Linked DNA regions of Homo sapiens: region 2 is linked to region 1. The links come from fine-mapping of genetic effects on gene expression. Tissue or cell type: whole blood. Region 1 holds a variant in brackets; the other region holds the start of a gene. All regions are shown on one strand. Distances are from middle to middle.

The links.
Region 2: TBC1D7 starts here. The variant in region 1 is fine-mapped to the expression of TBC1D7 in whole blood (TOPMed, PIP above 0.99).

What each region holds. Positions count from the first base shown.
Region 1 is chr6:13,293,220-13,296,128 of GRCh38, forward strand. The region is part of intron 8 of TBC1D7-LOC100130357 (TBC1D7-LOC100130357 readthrough); the gene reads right to left. LOC100130357 (a long non-coding RNA gene) reads right to left here and starts at 2,367. Exons shown (of 5, transcript NR_160971.1): 1 at 2,267-2,367; 2 at 2,056-2,169; 3 at 1,577-1,679. The variant C/T (reference allele first, on the strand shown) is at 1,553.
Region 2 is chr6:13,326,971-13,329,879 of GRCh38, forward strand. TBC1D7 (TBC1 domain family member 7) reads right to left here and starts at 1,567. Exons shown (of 8, transcript NM_016495.6): 1 at 1,326-1,567. TBC1D7-LOC100130357 (TBC1D7-LOC100130357 readthrough) reads right to left here and starts at 1,567. Exons shown (of 9, transcript NM_001318809.2): 1 at 1,486-1,567. It overlaps LOC124901261 (a long non-coding RNA gene), which reads left to right and starts at 1,645. Exons shown (of 2, transcript XR_007059457.1): 1 at 1,645-1,928; 2 at 2,755-2,887. RefSeq lists a silencer at 1,383-1,772 and an enhancer at 1,406-1,912.

The DNA of each region.
Region 1 (2,909 bases):
AGTGAAGCAACACAGGAGTGGAAAACCAAGTATCGTATGTTCTCACTCATAAGTGGGAGCTAAGCTATGAGGACACAAAGGCCTAAAAATGAGATAATGGACTTTGGGGACTCAGAAGGGGGAGGGTGGGAGGAGGGTAGGAATGAAAAATTACACATTAGGTACAATGTACACTACTCAGGTGATGGGAGCACTAACATCTCAGAATAAACTACTATATATTTTATCCATGTAACAAAAAGTCACTTGTGAGGCCGGACACAGTGGCTCACACCTGTAATCCCAACACTTTGGGAGGCCGAGGCAGGTGGCTCACCTGAGGTCAGGAGTTCGAGACCAGCTTCGCCAACATGGTGAAACCCCATCTCTACTAAAAATAGAAAAAATTAGCTGTGTGTGGTGGTGGGTGCCTGTAATCCCAGCTACTTGGGAGGCTGAGGCAGGAGAATCACTTGAACCCGGGAGGGAGAGGTTACAGTGAGCTGAGATCGTGCCACTGCACTCCAGCCTGGGCAACAAGAGCAAAACTCTGTCTCCAAAAAATAATAAAAAGCCACTTGTACCCCAAAAGCTATTGAAACATAAATAAATAATAAAATAAAATACAGATATACTAATTTTTGAAAAAGGTTCTCCCACCTGGATGACGGCAGCCATGATCTTTCTGCCTGTGGCCTCAGCATCCAGTCCTGCCATGAGAGTCATGTCTCCCAACTCAGATGGGCTCACCCCACCCTCCCTCTTGGTACCTGCCTCCACTGTCTTACCCATCAAGCCCCACTCTGCAGTGTGGCATCCGTAGTGACAGTGTGGCCCTTGCTCACTTCCGCCAGCCTCACCTCCTGTCCCCTGCTACATCACTCTGCTCAGGCTTCCCAAGCAGACCCTTCTGGTGCGTGTGACCTGGGAGTCCTGTGAGGGATGCTATTGATGTGGCCATGTTGTGGTGACCACCTCAGGGACAATCAGGGTTTAACAAGGGCCCTCGGGCACTGAGCAACTAAGCTTTCCTGAAAGGAGTCCAAGAGAGGTCTCATGTAGGCAACCTTGGAACTCAATGAGAAGCATACAAAGAAAAAAAAAGTATGAACAAATAGCTGTCTCTTCTGACACCTGGCAGGTGGCGGCCCTGATTTCTAACTCTGGCTACCTGGTCACTTGATCCCTACCAACAGCACCACTAACAGCTCCCACACAGTAAACACTTACCGTACCCCAGGCACTCTGTTAGGCCATCTTCATGCACCATTTTCTTTAACCCTTACGACACCTTGGTCACCGATGAGGAAACTCAGGTCCCCAAACAACAACGTGGGCAAAGTCACACAGATGGTAAGTGGCGGAGGGGCTTCCAAACCCAGGTCTGCCTGACTCTAAGGCAATGCCCTTAACCTCCCTGCTACGCTGACGTGTCGTGGCTTTCCCTCTACCTTCTTGAGTTCACACTTCCTCAGCATCCATCCAGTTATCCCATTTGCCTGTCTTGAGTGATTACATAGTTTTCTGACACTGAGGATCACAGACGGAAAGATCATGGACTGCCTCCAAGCCC[C/T]GGCTTCCAGCTCCTCCCTCTCACCTCTCATGCACAACTTTGTCTGTGATTAAGCTGAGTCTCCCGCTTCTCCACTCCGTGGGGACCTCCCACAAGCATTTGACAGTCAGCCAACATTTATGCCTTCCTGCAAGGGAAGCAGAAGTCACGAATGAGGCACTTGTACAGTGTGGGTCCTACCTAGAGCTGTTGCAAAGGCAGGAAGAGAAGGGCATGCTACCTAATGAGAGAGAAGAACACCAGACACTTCATCGTGTGTGAGCGTCCAGTCCCTTACCTAGAGGCTATTTTCTGGGGGGGAAAAGGGTTCTGCTCCTAATCAAATAATGCTCTCCACATTTCATAATAGGGAGCCATGATCATCCACTATTTCCATGGGCAACACTGCAGAGGAAGGCAAAGGGCTCTCATTAATTAAACTAATGAATTCATCTGCAGGAGACAGGAAGAGTAAACCACGGAAACAGAATTGACTAATTCTTCTTCCGTTAAGATGCATCTACCCTGAGCCAGAATTCCAGAACTGGTTCCCCTCCTCATCCATGATGAAGACGCTGCGGCTCATGTGGTCACAAAGGCTTGGTGTTTCCTATGTGGAGATACCATTGCTGTTCTACCTTTAATCAACAAAACAAAACAAAACAAAAACGAGAAAGAGAAATGGTAGAGGGAGGGAGGAAAATGCTGTCTGTTCCTTAATCACCAATCACCAACCTGGAGTGGTCACTGACACCTTGTCCAGTGTGGCAGGGGGGTCCCTGGGGTCCATGGTCCTGGGGTCCATTCAGAGCCCCCACCCAGAAGAGGACAAGCCAGTCTTCAGCTACACAGGTAAAAAAACACTTCACACATGGATTGAACTTCTTATCTCAGACAGTCCTGACCAGGGACGGCATCAGAGTAAAGGCTTTGGTCTCACGCAGCAACCCTGTGGCCAGTCCCCGCAGTGTGGCAGGCCTGCCACTGTGCGACCGAGGCCGTCATGCATGAAGCACATCTGGGGCTTTATGGCTCAACACCTGAGCCTCCTGGAAGGCCTTGGCCGCCTCACTGAAGCCCCAGCGTACCGGCTCTGCAAGGCCCTGGGGTTAAAATAGCAAAAATGCCATCTGGCAAGAGGCTGGCTTTGTTCAGACTGTGTGCTGCGTTGTCGCTGGGGTGGTGGGGACATTTTCCAAGCCACCATTAGAATATGAGCTGTCACCTGGGCGAGCCCCACTCCCCCATGCCCCCAGCCCGCTCGTCAGCATCCACGCAATCATGGCAGGAGCCCCTGTGGCAGCTGAGCCACCTTGGGTTTTCCTCAATTCCATCTCACTGACTTGGTGATGACAGCCCCAAAGCAGGCAGGACAAAT
Region 2 (2,909 bases), 34 kb after region 1:
CAAAGAGTCAAGAATTAGAATAATTTTCAATGATGTTCTCCACCTTTTCAATATGATGTACCCTTGCATAGGACCCAATATTAAATTTTTCCTTTAACTCAGTTCTGCAACTATCTCACCTATGCATCTTGGCTAAAAACCAAGATATAAGTTAAAAGTTCTCTGAGCTGATAAAATAGATGGCACAAGGTTTATGCACTAGGTTTCCCACTATACCTATGAGTGCCTAGCACAATAGAACATTCTGTAGCTATTATAAATGCGCAAAGAAAAAAAATAAGTGAAATGGAAGCCAGGCAAGATACGTCAAGCAAATTATACTCAAACAGTATACACTATGATTTCATTTTTTGTTTTTTACAAATTTCATGTATTTTAAAACTTAACACTCTATTCCAAAATGTTAGCAATGGTTATCTTTAGATAGTAGGATTCTAGATGATTTTAATTTCCTTTCTTTTGCTTAGCTACTTTTTTTTAAATGGGCATTTTGTAAAATGAAAAATTAAGTTATATAAAAGTAAAAAGCCACGAGTTCCTCACTTATCTTTCTTTTAAACACAATTCTATTAAGTGTAGCTATCGAAATTCAAAACCCACAACAAATAAATCGCATTAAATTATAACTAGAAGAGGGTAAAGAATGTAGCCAATTGACAGTGATCCCAAAGTCAGAGTTGAAGACGGAAAAACGATTTAAAATCTACCGCAAGAACTCAAAAAGTTCAGTGGTCTCAAGTTCCTTCACAGTAACCTTCATAATACTGGCGGTAATTCATCCAAAAAAAGACCAAGTTAGATTTGGCGTTTCAAGAACAGAAAAGATCTGATGCATTTCCCAAAAAGCACTGCACTGCCTCACCCAAATGCTTCCAGCGTCTGTGCACAAAAGAGTAAATCTTTAGGTTTAAAAACCCTGCGACGTCCCCAGTGAGCAGGGGAGGGCTTCCTTCCTTATTGAAAAGATATCCTCTGAACCGATTCAGTCACAGGAAAGATTAGGATTCGTTTAGAAAATGAAATGCTAAAGGGCTCTGAGCTTTCGGGAGCAGATGTCTTAAAAATAAAAAAGTCAGCAGCATAAAACGCGTAATGAGTGTGGGGATTTATTTTTTTAAAGCATCCAAACAGCTGCATGACGATTTGGTCGGTCCCTGTTGTCTAAGGACACCCATTCTTAGATTGCACTACAATGACAAAGGCGTCCTCTAGGAGGAAATGCTGCAAATAATATCTCCTGCCCATGCGCGTCCACCTGATGGGAAAAGTAAAAACACCCTGGTCCAAGACCCCAGGTCCCATTCTCTCTATGATGGATGCTTCACCTCTAGTAGTGCAAACACACCCGGGTTGAGACTAAGTGGTCCGGGAGAAGCAGAGGAAGCCGTGCCCTGTGCGCTGACCGACCGCCGGGCAGGCGGGCACCGTTGGGGCCCAGGGCCAGGAGGGACGAGTCCTGCGGGAAGGAGGGAGGCGGCGGGGTACCTGGGACACCCGCGCGCGCCCAGACGGCCCGGGAGACAAAACTCAGCGCCGCTGCCGCTGCCGCTGCCGCCGCCGCCGGACGTGACATCAACTCCAGGTCGCCGGGCGGGCGCCGGGCGGGCGCATGCGCAGAGGGCGCGGGCAGGAAGCTCCACCCTCACTCCAGGAAGCTCTGGCTTCGTTTGTGAAACCCGACGGGATGAAGGGCTAGGCTCGCCTCCAGAGTAGTGTAGTTTCTCCCGCCGTGGGCACCCGGCCCCTTGCTACCCCGCAAAATCTCGCGACCATTTACTCTGGCCATCCGAAGGCGCGTGCCTGGGTTGCACTCCCGTGTCCGGCCCTCGAGGTTCTTGCCTAGGGAAGACCCGAGCCCTAGGGCCGTACTTAAGCTGCCTGCGTGCAGGACCCGGGTTTTGCTTTTGCTAATTTCCTCCCCACCCCAGGTATGTGGGAATAGATGAAGACCATCCGAATGAGAAGAAAAAAGGCAGGCAGAGGAGTGCAAGTCTGATTTAGAGCAGGCAGGCTCCCTGGGTTGGTTATTGTAGGTAACTGACTGGTTTTCTGGGCAGGTTGCTGCAGGTTGTGGATTGGAGGTCTATTTTTATATTAGATTTGGCCATTGTCTTAGTATATTCAGCCTCTCAGGTAAAACACTATAACATAGGAGAAAAATGAACGTGTTTTTTTTTTAAAAAAAGATGTGCTAAATGCAAGCTCCTAATTTGTTATTAGTAGGTCTAACAGAACAGAGTTACTCTTTAAAGTAGCTACTAACACTTACAAATGCTTTCTATTTCTGTGCTTGCCTCCCTGGTCCTCGGGCTGGCTGAGCAGCAGTGCCCAAGTAGGTTTTTAAACCGCCAGGGTTTGAGAGAAATCCCCAATGATGGGTATCGTCCCTTTGAAAGTTCAAATCTCTACCAAATAAGCCACACGGATGCCAAGCTTTGAAGGAAACTTAGGACTATCAACAGTGCAGAAGTCCAGTTATAGTGCAGACAAATGTGTGTATAATGGCTAGACAGAACTTAAAAATGAAGAAACGTGTGGTGGTTGAACTCAAACACTGATGCCCCTCCCCACTCCCTTACCACCACCATCTTTAGTTCCTCAGTACTGGGGTACTAAACCTTCCTTGGGTAGTGTTCACATGAGTAAGCAGAGTTCTTCAAGTTACCTTACACAAGTTCCATTTACTTCATCTAAACCTTGGGCCGGTCACTAACTTTTATAATTGCCTTTTCTTGTCTTTAAAATCATCACCAGGGCTGGGCACTTACTGTGTGCAGGCGCTGTTCTATGGACTCAGGATACATCAGCTACCGAAGCAAAGATCCCTAACCTTGTGAAACTGACATTCTGGTGGGAGGACAGATCCAATAAAAACTAAAATAAATAAGTCAATGATGTAGTGTGTTAAA